4 separate regions of the Homo sapiens genome follow, and all the other regions are reported to be linked to region 1. The links are microRNA targets in miRTarBase. Many come from high-throughput screens and were not tested one by one. Region 1 holds a microRNA gene; each other region holds the end of a gene's coding sequence.
The links. The annotated mature microRNA hsa-miR-21-5p reads UAGCUUAUCAGACUGAUGUUGA and lies in region 1 at 1,312-1,333, shown strand. An mRNA with a match to its seed (bases 2 to 7 or 8) in the 3' UTR can be bound and repressed. Matches are read on the target gene's strand: a 7mer-m8 pairs with bases 2 to 8, a 7mer-A1 pairs with bases 2 to 7 and ends in A, and an 8mer does both.

Region 1 (3,227 bases):
AATTGGGAGGACTCCAAGCCGGGAAGGAAAATTCCCTTTTCCAACCTGTATCAATTTTTACAACTTTTTTCCTGAAAGCAGTTTAGTCCATACTTTGCACTGACATACTTTTTCCTTCTGTGCTAAGGTAAGGTATCCACCCTCGATGCAATCCACCTTGTGTTTTCTTAGGGTGGAATGTGATGTTCAGCAGCAAACTTGCAACAGACTGGCCTTCTGTTTGTTACTTTCAAAAGGCCCACATGATACAATTAGAGAATTCCCACCGCACAAAAAAAGTTCCTAAGTATGTTAAATATGTCAAGCTTTTTAGGCTTGTCACAAATGATTGCTTTGTTTTCCTAAGTCATCAAAATGTATATAAATTATCTAGATTGGATAACAGTCTTGCATGTTTATCATGTTACAATTTAATATTCCATCCTGCCCAACCCTTCCTCTCCCATCCTCAAAAAAGGGCCATTTTATGATGCATTGCACACCCTCTGGGGAAATTGATCTTTAAATTTTGAGACAGTATAAGGAAAATCTGGTTGGTGTCTTACAAGTGAGCTGACACCATTTTTTATTCTGTGTATTTAGAATGAAGTCTTGAAAAAAACTTTATAAAGACATCTTTAATCATTCCAAAATTGTGTCCGTTTTCTTGAGCGTTTTGATTTTTTACTTTTAGCTTATACCAGCTGAATGGCAGCCTTGCCTAATCCACCTACAACAAGAATTTCTTAAGCTTTCTTTTATTTGCATGAGAGAGCCACTACCAAGGCATGTTTTGTTATGCTGAAACTGGGCTGCTGCATACTGCTAAATGGCACCTCTGGGATTGGCCTACCTGGGGATTTCTTGGTTTGTGAAAACAGGAGAGGAGAAATATCTCATACAAGTGAAAGGATACTGGAGAGAGAAATTACCCATTTCTAAAAAAAAACCACACTCTGTCGTATCTGTGTTAATGTTTTCTAGCATGTACTCTGGTTTCAACAGACACAAATTTATATGTTAACCCAGTTTTCTTGCCGTTCTGTAAGTGTTTTATTCTTAGTGTGATTTTTTTCCATTGGGATGTTTTTGATTGAACTTGTTCATTTTGTTTTGCTTGGGAGGAAAATAAACAATTTTACTTTTTTCCTTTAGGAGCATTATGAGCATTATGTCAGAATAGAATAGAATTGGGGTTCGATCTTAACAGGCCAGAAATGCCTGGGTTTTTTTGGTTTGTTTTTGTTTTTGTTTTTTTATCAAATCCTGCCTGACTGTCTGCTTGTTTTGCCTACCATCGTGACATCTCCATGGCTGTACCACCTTGTCGGGTAGCTTATCAGACTGATGTTGACTGTTGAATCTCATGGCAACACCAGTCGATGGGCTGTCTGACATTTTGGTATCTTTCATCTGACCATCCATATCCAATGTTCTCATTTAAACATTACCCAGCATCATTGTTTATAATCAGAAACTCTGGTCCTTCTGTCTGGTGGCACTTAGAGTCTTTTGTGCCATAATGCAGCAGTATGGAGGGAGGATTTTATGGAGAAATGGGGATAGTCTTCATGACCACAAATAAATAAAGGAAAACTAAGCTGCATTGTGGGTTTTGAAAAGGTTATTATACTTCTTAACAATTCTTTTTTTCAGGGACTTTTCTAGCTGTATGACTGTTACTTGACCTTCTTTGAAAAGCATTCCCAAAATGCTCTATTTTAGATAGATTAACATTAACCAACATAATTTTTTTTAGATCGAGTCAGCATAAATTTCTAAGTCAGCCTCTAGTCGTGGTTCATCTCTTTCACCTGCATTTTATTTGGTGTTTGTCTGAAGAAAGGAAAGAGGAAAGCAAATACGAATTGTACTATTTGTACCAAATCTTTGGGATTCATTGGCAAATAATTTCAGTGTGGTGTATTATTAAATAGAAAAAAAAAATTTTGTTTCCTAGGTTGAAGGTCTAATTGATACGTTTGACTTATGATGACCATTTATGCACTTTCAAATGAATTTGCTTTCAAAATAAATGAAGAGCAGCTGTCCTTCTTTCCTCTTTTAAGTGTTCAGCTGTGGCATGCTCAGAGGTTCCTGCTGGATTCCAGCTGGAGCGGTGTGATACCCTTCTTTTTCAGCTGTTCGTGCCTTCCTTTCTTGTATCCACCAAAGTGGAGACAAATACATGATCTCAAAGATACACAGTACCTACTTAATTCCAGCTGATGGGAGACCAAAGAATTTGCAAGTGGATGGTTTGGTATCACTGTAAATAAAAAGAGGGCCTGGGAATTCTTGCGATTCCATCTCTACTTTGTATAAGTCTCATTTTGTGCCTTACACATCTGCAGTATTTATCATGTTCCAACTTGGTGACTGTCAGGCAGTGCAATACATCAGCAGTTTATCACCGAAGAGCTGAGGAATACCTCCCTTAAAACAGACAATGTCGGCCGGGCGCGGTGGCTCACACCTGTAATCCCAGCACTTTGGGAGGCCAAGGCGGGCAGATCACCTGAGGTCAGGAGTTTGAGACCAGCCTGGCCAACATGGCGAAACCCCATCTCTACTAAAAATATAAAAAATTAGCCGGGCGTGGTGGTGCACGCCTGTAATCCCAGCTATTCAGGAGGCTGAGGCAGGAGAATCCCTTGAACGCAGGAAGCAGAGTTTGCAGTGAGCCGAGATGGCGCCACTGCACTCCAGCCTGGGTGACAGAGCAAGACAAAAAAAATAACAGATGATGTCATATGAAAATGTGCAATGTCCAGTTTTCCCATAGTTTTCTGTATTCTCTGTGTGCATAATCTGGAGTATGAGTCTGGGAAGAAAAAGGTTTTTAGTTTCATTTGGATAGTGGCCACCTCTCCATTCCCTACGAATGCTAGAATGAAGTTACTTTTTTTTTTTTTTTTTTTTTTTTTGAGACAGAGTCTTGCTCCGTCGCCCAGGCTAGAGTGCAATGGTACAATCTCGGCTCACTGCCACTTCCGCCTCCCAGGTTCAAGCGATTGTCCTGCCTCAGCCTCTGGAGTAGTTGGGATTCCAGGCGCCCACCACCACACCAGGCTAGTTTTTGTATTTTTAGTAGAGACGGGGTTTGGCCATGTTGGTCAGGCTGGTCTCGAACTCCTGACCTGAGGTGATCCACCTGCCTCGGTCTCCCAAAGTTCTGGGTTCACAGACGTGAGCCACCATGCCCACGTAGAATGAAGTTTCTTAAATACACTAGTTAATTATTGAAA
Region 2 (3,000 bases), not on the chromosome of region 1:
TAAGACCATATTGAGTGAAAAAGAGGCTGATGTCCCTTACCTGGCAGGGAATAAAATCTACTCTCTGGGTCAGCAATTAACAGACTCAGCTTTGGAACTCATTTGGGCCTAGAGAAAGGTTAGTGAGGACACAAAAACAGATTACTCCTAGGAACGCAGTAAAAGGAAATGAGGTCATTATGATCATATTTCCTCTCTTTTACCTCCTCAGGGCAGAGCATGTATCATTATTCAAAACTGTCGTGTATGACCAGCTGTGAGGACATCAACTTCCTGGGGTTCACGAAGAGGGTAGAGCTCATCTGTTGTGATCATAGTAACTACTGCAACCTCCCTGAGGGAGTTTAGTTCTACGTCTCTCCTGGATTTTGGGTTCTTTTTCAACCACTACGCTCTTTTTCTCTTCCCTGAACCTGAATTTTGCTCTCCTCTTCTATGCATTGGTAGAGAGTGAGAAAGCCAGCTCATAGTGAAAAGACAAGCAGGCATAAGGAGACGCAGTGTGGACAGCGGAGCCTATTGATGATGGAGCACTAGACTCACTCTTTGCACATCCCTGTCGCTAACAGGTGGGAGGGGTTTTGCTCTCCTTACGTGATACTGCCATGAATAAGCTCAGACTTGGTCATTTATTATCTCCTGTATGAAAATGTGAACACTTGGGCCATAATAATCTCCAATTTGTACTGAGAATTCTGTGACTATCCTCTATCCTCATCTACACACACACTCCTCTCCGTTGGAATTCTCTTTGGATTAGCCCTGACACTTTCTGGCACTGTCCTTTTCTGCCCGTGGGTTCTGGAGAGGGCTAACCCCAGCTTCCCAGTGTGTTGGCAGCATGGGCCAAGTCTTTCTCTGATAGAGCTCTTGGGGGAACCTCAGGGCAGAAAAAAAAAAACTGAACAGACATAGGGATGAGCATCAAAGAAAACTTCAGGGGGCATTTCAACTGGTAAAAACTAAGATCTGAGAAATAACTTGCTGTGGGTGGAATTGGCTTGAATTATCATTGCCCTGGCTGGCCAGGCAGCCTTGGGCACATGGTTGAACTAGGTGATTGGATTGGGAACAGAGTGTTTTTTTAAGGATGGCTAGTCAGGTTCTTCTCATGGGACTGAGCAAACAAAATGCTGATAATGTGGCAGGTGGTGTAGTAGTTGAAGATAATAGGATGTAAATAGATACCATGAGGTAGTGTTCAAGTAACAGAGTGCCCTGTGTAAGAGGAAGTTATGAGTTTGCAGAAAGTGTGAGAAAGGTAGCATATATGGGTAACAGTGGTGGGAAGAGAAGAAGGAAGACACAGAAACAGATAGGAAGAGAAACTGAGTAGCATTGATGTTGGAGCACACCTGTGGCCAAGGTGGCACATTTTCCTTGGATACACACTAACCCTGGTGTTTCTGTCCTTATAAGGCTGACTGCACCCTAGATGACGGGTTGATGGGTGCAGCAAACCACCATGGCACATGTATACCTATGTAACAAACCTGCATGCTGCACTTTCTTTCATGTATCCCAGAACTTAAAGTAAAATAAAAAAATAAATAAATAAATAAAGGCCAGAAAAATTGGCCAAAAAATCTGAATAGAAAAAGATATACAGATAGTAAATGAGCATATGAAAATATGCTTAACATCATATCTCACTAGGGAATTGCAAATTAAAACAACAATATTACGCAACTATACATTTTAAATGGTCAAAATCAAAAAAATAAAAAACCCTCACAGTAGCAATTTTTGTCAAAGATATAGAGCAATAGGAAATCTCATTTATTGCTGGCAGGAATGCAAAATGGTAATGCTGTTTTGGAAGACAGTTGGTAGTTTCTTAGAGAGGTGATTATACTCTTGCTATGTCATTCAGTAATCATGCCTTTAGATATTTACTCAACCAATTTGAACAGTTATGCCCACACAGAAACCTGCACACAAATGTTAAAATCATATTTATTCATAATTGCCTGAGACTAGAAGCAATAAAGATGCCCATCAATAAGTGAATGGATATGTAATCTATGGTACATCCAAACAGTGGGATGCTACTCAATGATGAAAAGAAATGATCTATCAAGCTATGAAAGGACATGGATACATTTTTAAATGAATATTGCTAAGTTAATGAAGCCAGTCTGAAAAGGCTACATACAGATGCTCCTCAACTTATGATGGGGTTATATCCTGTTATAACAATTGCAAGTTGAAAATACTGTGAACTGAAAATGCATTTAAAACACTTAACCTTCCAAACATCATAGCTTAGCCTAGCCTACCTTAAATGTGCTCAGGATGTTTACATTAGCCTATAGTTGGGCAAAAGCATCTAACACAAAGCCAATTTTATAATTGGCTTTGAGTATCTCATGTAATTGAGTATTTCATGTAATTTATTGACTACTCTACTGAAAGTAAAAAACAGAATGCTTGTATGGGTACTAAAGTATGGCTTCTACTGAATGCTTATTGCTTTCACACATCTTAAAGTTTAAAAAACTTGTAAGTCAAATCATTGTAAGTCTGGGAACATGTGTACTCTGATTCCAATTTTGTAAAAGACCAAAGTATAGGGTTGGTGAAAATATCAATGACTGCCAGTGGATTAAGAGGAAAAAAGGGATTGAATAGGTAAAGTATAAAAGATTTTTTAGGGTGATGAATCTATTCTGTATGATACTATACCAGTAAATACATGACACTATGCACTTGTCAAACCCCATAGAACTTTACTGCACAAAGAATGAAACAATGTATGAGAATTAAAAGAAAAATCATTTAGGAAGTCAGAGGATTCCAGGAAGGAATGCACAATGTGACAAAAATGATGTAACTGTTACAAATGTGTGAAACAATCTCTCTGAGTTGAGTTGGGGGAAAAGTTTCTGATCTGAGTAACTTTGTAAATGAGTGGAGCCTGTAAGCTTAAAGGCAAAAGAAAATGTACACAAGCTCTGCACTCTACTTGATAAAATTGTTTTCCCCAAGGTTATAGGTTAA
Region 3 (3,227 bases), not on the chromosome of region 1:
ACAAGGAGACAGAGAATCTAGAACTACTGCCAGGATTGTTACAGAAGGACACATTACAATTTTCCTTAACTGTTATTTGTTTTTCATGTTTAATATTGTTTATAAAAAAAGTTACTTCACTGTAAAAAAAAAAAAGTTGTACATAAACTTGATCACTGTAAGATAATCAAATTGCATTTCAGTTGCAAGTACACTCTTTTGTTTTCCCTGTCACTTAGGGAACGGTTATCATCATTGCAAATCATGGTGACAGAATTGATATCCCACCTGGAGCAGTATTAGAGAACAAGATTGTGTCTGGAAACCTTCGCATCTTGGACCACTGAAATGAAAAATACTGTGGACACTTAAATAATGGGCTAGTTTCTTACAATGAAATGTTCTCTAGGATTCTAAAATAGGCAGGTACTTTACTATGTTACTGTACCCTGCAGTGTTGATTTTTAAAATAGAGTTTTCTGCAGTATGCTTTTAGTCTAAGAAAAGCACAGATGGAGCAATACTTTCCTTCTTTGAAGAGAATCCCAAAAGTTAGTTCATCTTAAAGTGCAATATTGTTTAATCTTAAAACTGGGCAACTTTGGAAGAACTTTTAACAGAAGCCTCAATGATGATCACTTTGAATTGCTTGTGATTTCAAAAATAAAGCAGTGAAGCAATACTTGTGTACACTGGTACTTTATAATGCTAACTATAAACTGGTTTATTGTTGTTAGACAGTTACTATATTAGTTGGAAGATTTGCCCTTTAAGTACACACTGGCTAGTTACCTAGCCAGTGTGTACTTAATGAGTCCAGTTTTTGGCATTTCTAAGAATCTTAATCATACCATTATTTCCACAGGAATTAAACTGAAGGTATTTTCTTTAGTACCTACCTTTCATCTAGTTCTAAAACTGGGATGCCTGCCATGCTTTCCACAAACTCTCCATTTATTGAAACAAAGTGGCATTTATTTTCCCAGCTGACGGGGGTGGGCAAAGGGAAGGCATTTCTTCACATCCTTGTACTCTTCTATAGTGAGGTAGGGGGTATAGCTTCATAAAAAGTTCCCTTTCCCTGAAGCTTCATTTCCTGAAGCTTGTTTATTATCACTGAAAAAATGATCATTAATAATCTTTCCATTCAGGTCTGCTGGTAGTTCAATTTATGCCTTTTCTTTAAATTCATCCATACTTGTTTTGAGTAGGCTGCTTGTTTAAAGTTCACAATATACCACTTAAAAAAAAGTTGCCTTTTAAAGTCTGTTAATTTTTTACAGCTTTATTTTAGACAGATAGTTTAAGAACCAAAGACATACCTCTGTAATGATAAAGGAAAGAAAACAAGCTTTCCTTTTAAGAAACCAAAGAGCACAAAATAAGACTGTTTCATTATACATAATCACCACAGGATATTAGGCACTCTGACAGGGTTAGGCAAGATTCTTGGTGTGAGGTGAAGCACAGGCACTTTATTTGTACAGTGCTGCTGATTCTAATTTTGAAGGTAGGTATTATAAAAGTCTTTACTTGTCACCTTATTTCTGGCCCCAACACAGCAGCCTATAGTTTTAAAAGTTCTGTTTCTCCCTGGTCTTTGTTCGTATACACATCGAAAGTAACTTAAAAACAAGGATCCAAGGGGGCCATACTTCATATGTTATCTAAATGTTAATATGAGAACTCAAAAGTAGGCAGATTATATGAATACATATTCTTACCTCTGCTACAAATAAAAACACCCCAAACCCTTCATCATACTTTTATAAAAATACAGATATTAAACTGTAGCCTTTTATATACCATTTCTGAAAAGTATTTAGTTGCATAAATAGATGCCAGGATCTTTTTTTTTAAGTATTAATTACTTAAAAAAAGGCTTAAGTCTTTCAGGTATTTAGAGAGCTCTGGAAGGCTTTACCCAGTTGACATACGGTGGTAGTAGAAATATTAAATATGCAACACACAAAGCCTGCAACTTGACATTGGTCACTGAAACAAAAATTGAATTCCTAAATCCAAGCAATCAAAAGATGTTTATTTTTTATAGAAAGATCTGTAAAAAAATAATAATTTTTCAAACAGCTTTACTTTCATAGAGAAAACTTTCTACAGAAGTTGACTAAGATTTTAAATTGTACCATCATTAAATAAGGTGGGACACCATATGAATTTCATTGCACTGGAAGAAATGCAAAGCATTTTTTAATATAAAGTATACAGAGCATTCTAGTCAACTACAGCTGTGTTACAGCTATGTGTTCTTTTGGATTTGGTCCAAAGAAACCTGAGTCTGTTTCCAGAGAGAATGAAAAATGTTATAGACACCTGATCAGTTACTCCTCACTGTAGGATGCACAAAAATGACATTCCTTGTAGATCCCACTGAATCCAGTTTCCCAACACTTGATACTTTCCTTTTTCCCTTCCCCCACCCCAGTTCACTTTGGGTTTCAGGTTCAATTCTCGAATCACAGGCATCCAGATTTTCTTCATAACAAACACATCCCATGGTCAGATGAACTACCCAGTTTTCCAGGATGACATCACCTCTTCTGCTCCCAAATTTCGGCCATATTTAGGTCCAAATCTTTAAGGCCTTTTAAGGCTTGAAGATTTCCAGTGTAAAAAGCTACATCTGCTGTGACCAACCTAAATAATGGAGAGAAAATTATTTTTTAAATCTCAAACTTTCTATTCAGATAATTAAAGTAACAGTGCTCACCGAGTCAGAGTCCTATTATCTAAAATTCAGATTTCTTAGTGCCCAAGTGTCCAAATACTTTACTTAGCAGGATTCCTGCTATGAATAAGTAGGCCATTTAATGCTGTACTTCAATAATAAATATTTGGAAAATGAATAAACCAATGGCTGTTAGAGTCAGTTTCATGATAAATTCAGCCCAAGAAAATCAGATTTATCTTGAAACAGCATGAATTAATATACAGAGAAAATAACAGGCTAAACTAAAATGTTTTTGATTGGTTAGCACTAGAGTATGGGAGTGCTGACTAAAATAGTAAACTCAAGGGAAAAGCAGGCTAGGTTTCTAAGTGTCATCTAAGGCGTTAAATACAGACTAGTATTCATGTATATAAGCGATACTGGATATTTCTTTAAAAACCCAAGAGAAAAATAGGAAAGAACATAAGAAGTCACAGATGAAAACACCTGAATAACCAATAAACTGAAAAAATGGTAAACGTCAGGAAAATGCAAATCAAAACAAGGTACTACTATCCCC
Region 4 (3,227 bases), not on the chromosome of region 1:
AGCTTAGCTAACACAGCACTCTCTATTTGCCAAACAACTCATTTTAAATTGTAGTGAGTTTCTCCCTAAAAACCCGGAGAAAGATGGAATGCCGAGAGAAAACAGAGTAGACAGAAAAATTTGGACTCCTCTTGAGAAAAAGGGGTGGGGATGAGCGGAAAAACCGTAGGCGTGTTGCCGAACATCTCTGAAAGGGCTTAAATTTTTAATAAAATATGTGTTTTTTTTTTTAAGTTGAGGTGTTTTATGTATTACATGGATGTAATACATCTCTCATTTGTATAATTCTAGGTTAGGAGCTATGATTCTGCATAACTGCAAGAGTAGTTTGAATATAGTAATAAAGGTATTTTACAATTTTACATGATGTTCCCAGCGTTTTGTTGGCATGATTTGCCGGGGCTAATAAAAGCTTGTGATTATCATATAAATGCTCTCCCCCTCCTCCCATGGATGGGTTCAGTCTCCTCCCACAACACCCCTGCCTGCTTATCTGTGGCTGTTTTAACACAGGAGGGAGAACCTTGGGACCCCAAAGTCTGTCTGACCCGATTGGTTCTGTTTCCCGCTGTTTGAAAATCCTGAGTCAACAGGAAGGAGTCACCCTTTCAAAGCTTTCTTTCCCATCAGCCTCCTTGACAGTGCAGGGCCCTGAACCCCGGGCATCCAGAAGAGAGATCAAACCCCAGACCCCCATGCAGGTCACCAGGTGTGACCGGAAGCTCTGATCCTGGGGGTCTGGCAATATCCCTTCTGCACTGAGCATCTAACCTTATAGGCATATCTTCCTTTCTTGTGAATGTTTATTCTCGGTGCAGATCCTATTCGAGCTGCCTCTGAGTAAGTGCTCCCTGCTCTCCAAACGCCAAAGTTCACTAAAACTCCCCCTGATTTACGCACAGCTTCCGACTGCCAGCACCTGGCAGCCGCAGCAACCAGCTCCGTCATAAACAGATCGCATACAATTTAATTTTAATGTGCTCGTTAGTCGTAGCACATTTCAGACATAATTGTGAACGCAACACAAAATTATAGCAAAAAGACAATTTTAATGCTGCCGTAGAAAAAAGGGTTATATGAAGAGTCACATAATGGTGCTTCATTGTCAACAACCAAACAGGGCACAGAGTGTGTTACGGTGTCTGTGCTGTTTACATGCCAATATTTTATACAAAGGTTCTCATATGGTGTCAGCTGTCAGTTACTTCTGCAAATTAACTGCCAAAAATGGAGAAGAACAGAATCACTTGGAGAGCCGGTAACCACGGGTTACCTTTCATAAGCCTAAAGATAAAGCTGCAGTGTGGGATCTTGGGAGAATAATTAGGAAGAACAAAACAGAAAGTTACCAATTGAAATAGAAAGGCATCCTACAATATGGAATAGCAACCAAGAGGGCTTATAAATAAGTGAAAGAGGTTGGATCACAGAATGCCTCATGACTTTTAAGCAAAGTATTACAGTACAAACATTTTAAAGGCTTTATCAATGTTTAGGAAATACAGTACAAGTTCTTTTTTTTTTTTTGTTCTTTTTTTTAACCTTTTCAAATAGACTTAACCCTTTGAGCACTGAGTTTATTTTGAGTGTTCTTTGATTTCTAATAAATACCTTTAAAAATCATGTGCAAAATAGTTCTGATGCCTGCCAGGGATGTCTTTCCCGGTCTCGTTTATTCAGACTGCTCAAAACAAATGACAATATGATGCTAATAAATATGTATAATTTAAACATGAACCTCTATCAATATAGATGTACTGTATAGCAAAACAAACTATCATACTTTGCTTTCAGATAATGTTTCTGTATACTTTATAAATGCTATCTGTGGTATCTTCTGTATAATTTACAATGTTTGCATGTAAAAAACAAAACCCATAGACCTTAAAAAAAAGAAAAAAAGAAATATACACTATACATAGGCACAGCTTATGCCCAGAGCATAGCAGGTGCATAAAACACTGTTGCTATAAATGCAAGAAAAAGGTCATTTAACCACAATCACATTTTTTTTCATAAGAGAGTCTGAAATCTATACAATATATACATCTATGTTTCAATGTGAAAATAATATTCTTTTAAATTTCAAGGCGTGTTATACCCCTGCAGACCTGCATAAATGGAGGTTCATATTATTCATTATAACTAAGCTGGTAAGGAGTTTAAAAAACAGAGCTTCATACATTATTATTATTTTATTTTATTTTTTAACCAAATTAATGCAAAAGTGCTTCAAAGTACTCAGAGGGCTAAAGATGAAAGGGTGAGAAATGCCAGCACACTCGAGTCTCGTGGAAAAGGTGTGCCTGATTCCGTTATAAATGCTTAATTAAACTGTCTGTTAATGCATGCAGCTTGAAGCATCGGGAGGATGCTCACAACTAAATCCCGTTTACACAAAGTTCCAAACACTTACCACTGCATTTTAACCTTCATATTTTACCAGTAACAACAGCTGATTATGCACCTCTATTAAACACTGTACAGTTATACAAAACAGTCCAGCCCAGAGTGATTCTCTGCAGTTAAAATAAGAACATGTGCCAAGAACAACAAGTCAGAGGGGGCCTGAAGGTGCCTTCCACAGTTTCCCTCAAAGCAAACTGCAGTCCTTTCTATCAAAAGCAAATGCTACTGCTTCTCTAACTCAGAGACATACAGAAGGTGGTCTTCCGGAGATTTCCCGTGTGTTTTGCTAAGGTGAAGTTTAACAGCGTGCTTGCTGGCAAAGGTCCGATTGCAAAGTTTGCACTGATAGGAAGTCCCCAGGTCTTCCTCGGGGGAGGACGTCACCATTTTTTCTGACGGTGACTTGGTTTGTGCTATCTGACTGTTAATCTGTTCGGTGGACAGTTTGGATAAGTCCCGTAGCCGGAAGCCTAAGTGTGACTCTAGGTGACTGATGTACGTGGAAGGAGTCCTGATTTGGGACGCACAATCGTTACAAAAGAAGACGGGGTGGCCAGTGTCCAAGTTTTTGAGGAACTTTGTTCCACCTGTCCTTCGAAGCTGGTATTTCACGTTGGCCAGCCAGTGGCTGATGGTGGTCATGGACAGCCCGGTGAACCTGGAGATATGCATCCGCTCCTGGGGGCTCAGGTCTGACATGATGTACTTCCCTTCTGAGGTCTGCCGGAGGCTGGCGGCAAACTGGGCCTGGAGGATCAGGAGGTGCTGGGGGTTCCAGTTTGACTGGCGGCCCTTCCTCTTCTGGGCGGGCGTCGACT

Region 2: the mRNA of PATE2 is a reported target of hsa-miR-21-5p. Seed matches in the 3' UTR shown: 7mer-m8 at 610-616.
Region 3: the mRNA of VPS54 is a reported target of hsa-miR-21-5p. The part of its 3' UTR that is shown has no 7-base or 8-base seed match.
Region 4: miRTarBase lists TSHZ3 as a target of hsa-miR-21-5p. Seed matches in the 3' UTR shown: 7mer-m8 at 1,927-1,933.

What each region holds. Positions count from the first base shown.
Region 1 is chr17:59,839,962-59,843,188 of GRCh38, forward strand. MIR21 (microRNA 21) reads left to right here and starts at 1,305; the gene lies at 1,305-1,376. It overlaps VMP1 (vacuole membrane protein 1), which reads left to right. Exons shown (of 12, transcript NM_030938.5): 12 at 1-2,294. RefSeq lists an enhancer at 351-1,080 and a silencer at 2,366-2,560.
Region 2 is chr11:125,774,730-125,777,729 of GRCh38, reverse strand. It overlaps PATE2 (prostate and testis expressed 2), which reads left to right. Exons shown (of 4, transcript NM_212555.3): 4 at 212-1,617. The coding sequence ends at 348. Among named protein-coding and RNA genes, the nearest start is that of PATE2, 2.6 kb to the left of the region's middle.
Region 3 is chr2:63,890,902-63,894,128 of GRCh38, forward strand. VPS54 (VPS54 subunit of GARP complex) reads right to left here. Exons shown (of 23, transcript NM_016516.3): 23 at 1,249-2,634. The coding sequence ends at 2,529. It overlaps UGP2 (UDP-glucose pyrophosphorylase 2), which reads left to right. Exons shown (of 10, transcript NM_006759.4): 10 at 219-659. The coding sequence ends at 326. Among named protein-coding and RNA genes, the nearest start is that of UGP2, 51 kb to the left of the region's middle.
Region 4 is chr19:31,273,916-31,277,142 of GRCh38, forward strand. TSHZ3 (teashirt zinc finger homeobox 3) reads right to left here. Exons shown (of 2, transcript NM_020856.4): 2 at 1,030-3,227. The coding sequence ends at 2,632. Among named protein-coding and RNA genes, the nearest start is that of TSHZ3-AS1, 46 kb to the right of the region's middle.